Regions from separate parts of the Homo sapiens genome. Here region 1 is linked to region 2. The links come from fine-mapping of genetic effects on gene expression. A gene starts in region 2. The other region holds a variant in brackets. All regions are shown on one strand. Distances are from middle to middle. Region 1 overlaps ABCB9 (ATP binding cassette subfamily B member 9). Region 2 holds the start of ABCB9 (ATP binding cassette subfamily B member 9).

Region 1 (4,384 bases), 29 kb before region 2:
CCTCCTCCGCCTCCACCTCCTCCCCCTTCTTCTACTTCCTCTTTTTCCCAGCAGCATAATATTCCAGTGTATGGGCTTCTATAATAATTTACTTAATAAATATTTTGCTGAGTCACAGCACAGTGGCTCATGCCTGTAATCCCAGCACTTTGGGGATTGCAGGAAGATTGCTTGAGCGCAGGAGGTTCGAGTCTGGCCAGGGTAACGTAGCGGGACCCCATCTCTACAAAAAAAAGAGCAGGTGGCAGGGGGCAGTGCTTAACTCAGAGGGTTATGTCCCTGAGGGTGACCCTGTGGGCCCAGGAGAGGGGCCACCCCCAGCTCCACACCTGTGCTGTAGCCGTCCTGGAGTTCCATGATGAAGCCGTGGGCATTGGCCTTCTGTGCGGCCTCCACCACCATCTCGAAAGGCACAGTGGGCAGGCCGTAGGAGATGTTATCCGTGATGGAGCGGGCGAACAGCACGGGCTCCTGGCTCACCAGGGAGATCTGGGGAGGAGGGAGCATGGAGCATGAGAGGCCAGGAATGTGTTCATCCAGCTGTCCCCAGCAGCCTTGCTGCCTGGGGCCTGGAGACACCAGCAGTCTCAGGCCTGAAACCTGATCAGGGCCCAGTGACTGCACTGAGCTGCCTCTCTTCTTCCCCAACAGTGACTCCCGCCTGTACCCACAAGCCCTCAGCCTCCCCTAATCAGCAAACTGGGGCCTGCTACATTTGCTGCTCTGGGATAAGCCAAGTTCCCTGACCTCTAAGAGAAAGCTCACTGGCCATCCCTGTCCTGAAAAAAAGAAAGAGGGATAGAATATAGAATGTTGCTGTGAATGAGTCTGCTCATCTCAGGAAGCAAGAGGCCACAGCAGGGCTCCAGGTCACACAGACTGCCCTGGCGGTGGTCCCCTCCCTTCTAAGAGAACAATTTAAAGGAGCTATCATCTCTAGATTCCAGTTTCAGGAATCTGGGCCTACAAAAATAATAGTATGGCCAGGCCTGGTGGCTCATGCCTGTAATCCCAGCACTTAGGGAGGCAGAGGCAGGAGAATGGCTTTAGTCTAGGAGTTCAAGACCAGCCTGGGCAACACAGAAAGACCCCATATCTACAAAATGAAAAAAATATATAGTATGGAAGATATCATTGCAACACCATAAGTAGCAAAAGTTAATTAGTTAATTAATTAAATTAAAATGGAAACAATCTAGGTGTCCATAAATGGGGATTGGTTAAATAGTGACAGTGCATCCTTAAAACTGAATTGTAATAGATACATATACACAGCATGATTCTATTTTTGTTTAAAAAAATTATAAACGTGTACCTTCATATATTGATATATTTCTATAAAGATAGGAAACACATTGAAAAGGATATTTACTAAACTGTTAACACTGGCTACCTCCATGTGGTGGAATTCAAAAGGTAAGGTGGAGGGGAACATTCATGTCTTAGTTACAAGATTCATTACAACTATGAGAATATGATTAGCTTGTAGCATTTTATTGTTTTATGTTTATAGAAATTAACATTTTAAATTTAAAAATAGAGGCCAGCCATGGTGGTTCACACCTGTAACACCAACAGTTTGGGAGGCTAAGGTGGGAGGATGGCTTGAGCCCAGGAGTTTGAGATCAGCCTGAGCAACACAGTGAGAACCCGTCTCTACAAAATAATTAAAAATTGGCCAGGTGTACACGGTGGCTCATGCCTGTAATCCTAGCACTTTGGGAGGCCGAGGTGGGCGGATCACCTGAGGTCAAGAGTTTGAGACCAGCCTGACCAACATGGAGAAACTCTGTCTCTACTAAAAATAAAAAATTAGCTGGGTGTGGTGGTGCATGCCTGTAATCCCAGCTACTCAAGAGGATGAGGCAGGAGAATCACTTGACCCCTCGAGGCGGAGGATGTGGTGAGCTGAGATCGTGCCATTGTACTCCAGCCTGGGCAACAAGAGCAAAACTCCATCTCAAAAAAAAAAAAAAAATTGACCAGATGTGGTGGTGTGCACCTATAGTCCCTCAGGAGGCTGATGTGGGAGGATTGCTTGAGCCCAGGAGGTCGTGGCTGCAGTGAACCATGATCACACCACCACATTCCAGCCTGGGTGACAGAGTGAGATCCTATCTCAAACAAAAAGTACATAAATAGTCCAGGCGCCATGGCTCACTCCCAGCATTTTGGGAGGCCAAGGCGGGTGGATCACTTGAGGTCAGGAGTTCGAGACCAGCCTGGCCAACATGGTGAAACCTTGTCTCTACTAAAACTACAAAAAATTAGCCGGGTGTGGTGGTATGTGCCTGTAGTCCCAGCTACTTGGGAAGCTGAGGCAGGAGAATCGCTTGAACCCAGGAGGAAGAAGTTGCAGTGAGCCGAGATCATGCCACAGCACTCTAGCCTGTGCGACAGAGCGAGACTCCA[T/C]CTTAAAAAAAAAAAAAGAAAAGAAAAAGTACATAAATAAATAATTAAGAGAGGCTATTCATGAAGGAAAACCAAATGGCCAATATATGAAAAGGTGTTTAATATCTTCAGTCATCAGGAAAACACAAAAGACCACAATAAGCTACCACTACATTCTCACCAGTTAGCAAAAATTCAGGACTGACAATGTTAGGTGTCTGAGAATCGAAGCGTGGTACCTACTGCAAAGTGTGAACGGCTCTGCCCAGGGGGCTCTTCTAAAACTTTGGTGAGCAGCAGCCTGGTGGCCTCCCACTTGGCACCATTTCACAACAATCTACCTCTGGTTACATGCACATGGTGTGGGCAGATTTCACAACCCATGGCCCTCACCACCATCTCGAACTTGGCTAGGAGTTCTGGAATCTCTGTGCCAACACTCAGGCTTTCACATAATTTATGTTGATGATGTAAACGGTGCTCCCTTAATAGTTTATATTTCTTGGACAGTGCACAACCTGAGCAACCATCCAGGGCATCCCTGCTCTTAGGCCAGCACAGGGACAGGTGTTATGGTTCCTTTCCTGAAAGGATTACTAAAAACTGTCCAGTCATGAATAGCCTATTTTGAGTACTGGAGATGACCTAAATGTGGAACAGCTGAAACTCTCCTTCACTGCTAGTAGAATGTAAATTGTAAAATGTAAATTGGTATAACCACCTGGGGATAGCTGTTGTGACAGAAACTACGGCAGTTGGGGATGTACATCCACTATCACCAAGCTTTCTACTCTTAGGATTATACCTTGGGAGAACGTACTCATGTACAACAGAAAACATAGACAAAATTGTCCACATCCCACACTGGTATTTTTGGTAATGGTAAAACAAAACAAAACAAAACAAAACTGAAAAACAGGCCGGGGGCAGAGGCTCACACCTGTCATCCCAGCACTTTGGGAGGCTGAGGCAGGAGGATCACTTGAGGCCAGGTGTTTGAGATCAGCCTGGGCAACATGGTGAGACCACATTTCTACAAAAAAATAAAATTAGCTGGGCATAATGGCATGTGCCTGCAGTCCCAGCTACTTGGGAGGCTGAGGTGGGAGGATGACTTGAGCACAGGACTCTGAGGCTGCAGTAAGTTGTGACTGTGCCACTGCACTCCAGCCTGGGCAACAGAGGGAGACCCTTTCTCAAAAAAATAAAAATAGGCCAGGTGCAGTGGCTCATGCCTGTAATCCCAGCACTTTGGGAGGCCGAGGCGGGTGGATCACGAGGTCAGGAGATCGAGACCATCCTGGCTAACATGGTGAAATGCCGTCTCTACTAAAAATACAAAAAATTAGCCAGGCGTTGTGGTGTGCACCTGTAGTCCCAGCTACTCAGGAGACTGAGGCAGGAGAATGGCGTGAACCCGGGAGGTGGAGCTTGCAATGAGCCGAGATCGTGCCACTGCACTCCAGCCTGGGCGACAGAGCGAGACTCTGTCTCCAAAAAAAAATAAAAATAAAAATAAACAAATAAATAAAATAAAATATAAAGGGAAACAACCCAGCGAGGCACGGTGGCTCACGCCTATAAACCCAACACTTTGGGAGGCCAAGGCAGGCTGATCACCTGAGGTCAAGGGTTCGAGACCAGCCTGGGCAACACGGTGAAACCCTGTCTGTACTAAAAATACAAAAATTAGTCAGGCATGGTGACGCACTCCTGTAATCCCAGCTACTAGGGGGGCTGAGATAGGAGAATAGCTTGAACCCGGGAGGCGGAGGCTGCAGTGAGCTGAGATCTCACCACTGCACTCCAGCTTGGGCAACAGAGCAAGACTCATCTCAAAAAACAAAAATAAAGGGAAACAACCCAAATACCCAGAATGCATAAATAATTGTGATAAACATATGTATAGTGGGTTACCACCCAGCAATGAAAATGAATGAACTCTGTCCCCAGCCTCAACCTGGATGACTCACAATGTCGAGTGGGAGACACA
Region 2 (4,384 bases):
ACCTGGACAGCAGCCCAGGGGCTTGGCTGACTCTCCCAACCTGACTCCCAGCCTCTGGGGGAATTCCTTCCCCATCCCCCAACAGCCCAGGGTACCAGTCATGCCCCCCGCCTCCAGAAGCCTATTTATCTTCATCAGAATAAACAAAATTTCAAACACTCATATCGCAGACTACCAAAGCCACATTTTGCAGATGGGGAAACTGAGGCCCACAGAGGGAGGGGGTGAGGCTTGTCTCAGGTCATCCACCAGGCTGGGGCAGAGCAGTGCTAGCACCTGGGTCCCTGCCCCCAAGCACTAGTCCTTCTACCACAGACTCCTAGCAGAGTGGACTCCAGCCCCGGGTCGGGTTACAGTCCTCGGTGGGGACAGTTACTCCGTTATTTTTAAAGCTACTGGGCAGAAGCGTGACCACCAGCCAAGGCTGCTTAGAGGCCTGTCACCGCTCTCCAACTGCCTGACTCAGAGGATGCGCTGGGCTCGGCCAGGTGGAGCTGGAGGGCAAATTGTGAGCACATGGGTGACCTGCTTGGCCTGAGGGACAAGGACAAGGTGGTGGCCAGAATAGGCCCCACCCAGAACCGGACAAGGCCCAGGAAGACAGGGGTGGCTCGCCCTGACTCCGTGCACTAAAGAATGGCACAGGATAAGCAAGTGGCCTTGTCCCCACCAGGGGTCTTGTCAAAGGCTTTTCTTCCCAGGGTAGGAGACATTGGTTGGGGTATCTCTAGGCATCAGCTGCAGAGAAGGCCAGAAGACGATAGATAGCAGTTATTATGACGCTGCAACAGAGACCCTTTGCAGAGAAGGCCAGGAGACAATAGATAAAAGTTATTATGACACTGCAACAGAGACCCTTCACCGGGCCCTACTATGTGCCTGGCACCTCCCAAAGCAGCCAGGCCTCCCCACTTCCCTGGGAGGACCCTGTGGTCATCAGCTTCGTTTTACAGCTGGGGAGACAGAAGAGGTTAAGTGACACGCAGAAAAAGGACGAAGGCAGGATGGAGACCCGCATCCAGGGTCTCCAGGATGGAGACTCGGGGGTCCCCTGTCCAGGCTATTCAGGGATTGCAAGAAAAGGGGCCAAAGAACTTGGGTGGCCCAGTGGCCTCGGTTCACCCCTGACATGGTGAGCTTTTTACCCCGGTGTGGGCCCAGACCCAGATAAGCCCATTCCATTCGCTGCGCAGCAAAGCACTGACTGACAGAGGCCTGCTGGGTGGGAGGGCCTGACTGTGGGGGTCCCTGGCTCTGGGGCAGGAGCGGGCTGGGTCTGCGTGGGTCCATCCTGATTTCATCCCTGCTGAGCCTCTGGCAGCCCACGTGGGGCCCAGCCTCACTCTGGGACTTGAGAAGCTGTCTCAGGTGCTCTCAGCTCTAGGAGAGGCAGAGAGGCGCGAGGTGCCCTCCCTCCAAGCCTCCTCTTGTCACCCGGCCCTGCACTATCCGGAAAAGGGGAATGGGCAGAGGCGGGGATCCTGTCAGCCCAGCTTAAAGCTGTCTCAGTTAATGTCAGGCCGGGGGAGGAGGCTTTTTTTTTTTTTCCAGAGGCCCAGAAATAAAAGAGGCTCCCCTGGGAACCTACAGGCCTCACTGCCAGCGTGGATGGCGGGGAGCAGCGGCAGCCCACTGGCCTGCTGAGGAGACTGAGAAAAGGGCTTTGCCCAGGTCAGCAGGAACAGGCCAGATCCCCCAGGCTTCTGCCAAAGCCCTGGTGCTCAGGATCCCTGGGAAGCCCTGACATGGACAGTGGGAGCCCTCAGAAGGCGCGCCAGCCCCGTCCTGGGGGAACGACAGCCATCCCAGGATCCTCCAACACCTCCCACATTTTCCAAGAGGCAGCGGCGCCTTGGGGGTTAAAAAAAATGGCAACATTCGCCCTACGGGCGCGGAAAGGATGCTGCAGGGATGGGGGCTGGGAGCTGCGGCTGCGGGCTCCGGGAGGGCTCCAGGGAGGCTCCCACCTTCAACCGAGATGCCTATTCCCACCGAGGCAGGGGTGCCCAGACGCCCCCCAACGCGTGCCTGGCCTGGCACCCTGGCCTGGAAAGGTCCCAAAACCAGGGGTCTAGGGTGCCTTGCCCTTACCTGTTACCTGGCACCAGGTGAGCTCTGGGAGGGGGCGCGCAGCAGGCTCGGGTCTGGGGTGCAGTTTCCGCGCTGCTCATTGAAGACTGCGCCGGACGCGGTCCTCGCTCCGCTCTTCCCGCTGCTCCTCCCCGCCTCCCACCCGCGCTGCGCCGCTGCAAGGTCGGAGCTGAGACTGGCGTGCGTTGAGACAGGCTGATGGACGGGGCGGGGCCTCAGTGACGGAGGGGGCGGGGATCCTGGGGCAGGGACCGGCGGAGCCTCCCGGGAGGGGCGGGGCCTCAGGAGGAGTGGGCGGGCTTTCCTGGACGGGGCGGGGCCCCCGAGGAGGGGGCTGGCGAAGCCTCCGGGTGGGGACGGGCCTCCTGGGGGCGGGGCCACAGCTGGCCACCTGCTCACCTGTGGCAAACTCCTCCCACATCTGGCCAACCAGGCCCTCCACACTGCGTGCTGGCCTCCACCTGGAGCCACGGGCCCATCCTGAGGGGACGGAAATGGTTTCACCTGAAGGAGGCCAGCTTTTTAACTGGCCTTTTTCCCTGGAGGGACAGCCAGCCAGTCCAGGAGGGTGGGTTATGGTCCTCATTCATTCACTTATTCTTTCATTCGTTCACCCAACAGATATTTATCCAGTGCCTACGGCGTGCCATATGCCCTTTTAAGCATTTGAAATTAAACAATTAACAAAACAAGATCCTTGCCCTTCTGGAGCTGACATTCTAGTGAGGGTGTCAGACAACACATATAAGCAAATGAGATATATTGGAAGGGAATACATTTTACGGAGAAAATTGGTGCAAGATCAGGGATTCGGGGCATTGGAGAGGGGAGGCAGCGATATGTCCTCAGTGACTGCCAGGTGCTGGGAACACAGCTGTGTGTGAAAAGACAGAAAACTCCCAGCCTTCATGGCGTGAAGGGGACAGAACATCAGCAAGTAAGTGCATAAGGCCATTCAGGTACTGGATGCAGTAAAATAAATAAAATTGTGTAAGTGAAAGGTGAGAAGGCGTGAGCCACGGGGAGGGAGGAACATCCTACGCTAAGGCCTGCAAGTTCAAAGGCTCTGAGGTGGGAACCAACTTGGCCACTTGAGGACCAGAAAAGGGTCCATGTGGCCTGAACCGTGGGAAGTGGGTGGGGGAGTGGACTTACGGCCCAGAGGGGCAGCAGGTGGGGCTAGAACTGCCCACATCCCTGGATCCTCTGATCAGAGGCTTTGTTTTTTCCTGAGACAGAGACTCCAGGATGGAGTGCAGTGGCGAGTTCTCAGCTCACTGCAGCCTCTGCTTCCCAGCTTCAAGTGATTCTCCTGCCTCAGCTTCCCAGGTAGATGGGATTACAGGTGTCCGCTACCACGCCTGGCTAATTTTTGTATTTTTAGTAGAGATGGGGTTTAGCCATGTTGGCCAGGCTGGTCTCAAACTCCTGACCTCAAGTGATCTGCCCTCCTTGGCCTTCCAAACTGCTGGGATTAGAGTCGTGAGCCATGTGTGCCCAGCCCTGAACAGAGGCTTTTTGGAGCACTCTCTGAATTGGAAATGTCCTCTGCTACTTGGTGGGACAGCTTCTTTAGAGGGGAATTTGTTCAGAACTTACAACACTATGTTTTTTTTTAACCCAGAAGGAATTTCCTCTACAGATAGACTTGTGCAAGGGAGCTAAGGTACTAGCTTAAAGGTAGTTACTACAGTAGCAAAAGTCTGGAAATAACCTAAATACCCTTCCATAGGGAACTGGCCAAATAATTAGAGAACACCTGTTCAACAGAATACTCTGTAGCCAGAAAAAAAAAAATAGAAGACATAGAGTTATATAAAGGTATGGAATGACCTCCTAAATGTATTGAGTAAAAACCAAGGAGAGAATAAAGTTGAACCATGTTACTATTGGTGCAAAAACAAAGGCAAATATCTAATTGTACTTGAAGACGATATCTTGGATGGACTGTCCAAAAAGCAGGAGTCACTCAGAGCTGGGCTCTGTCATTTATGCTGTGTGACCTTAAAGAGGTGACTTTGCCTATCTGAGCCTGTTTTCTCATCAGAGAAATGGGGTAATAAAGATATCGACTGCATCAGGTAAAGGTAAAATGTGACAAGGCCAGTGAGGGCAGCCCCTGGCATGTGATAAACTTTCAGTAAAGGAGAACAAGGATTATTTTTAGGAGAGATGGGATGACTGAACCTTTATGTAACTACTAGCATAGTATAGCAAAAATCAACAGGAGCTGTCAGAAATGTGAAACGGACAGAAACAATTCGGCCTCATCACATGCTATTTCTTCACATGG

Evidence for each region.
Region 1: its variant is fine-mapped to the expression of ABCB9 in cerebellar hemisphere (GTEx, PIP above 0.99). The same link has a PIP of 0.9 or more in cerebellum.

Annotation. Positions count from the first base shown.
Region 1 is chr12:122,934,943-122,939,326 of GRCh38, forward strand. ABCB9 (ATP binding cassette subfamily B member 9) reads right to left here. Exons shown (of 12, transcript NM_019625.4): 10 at 330-489. Among named protein-coding and RNA genes, the nearest start is that of ABCB9, 29 kb to the right of the region's middle. The variant T/C (reference allele first, on the strand shown) is at 2,413.
Region 2 is chr12:122,964,196-122,968,579 of GRCh38, forward strand. It overlaps ABCB9 (ATP binding cassette subfamily B member 9), which reads right to left and starts at 2,268. Exons shown (of 12, transcript NM_019625.4): 1 at 2,092-2,268. RefSeq lists enhancers at 909-1,716, 1,717-2,522 and a silencer at 2,287-2,576.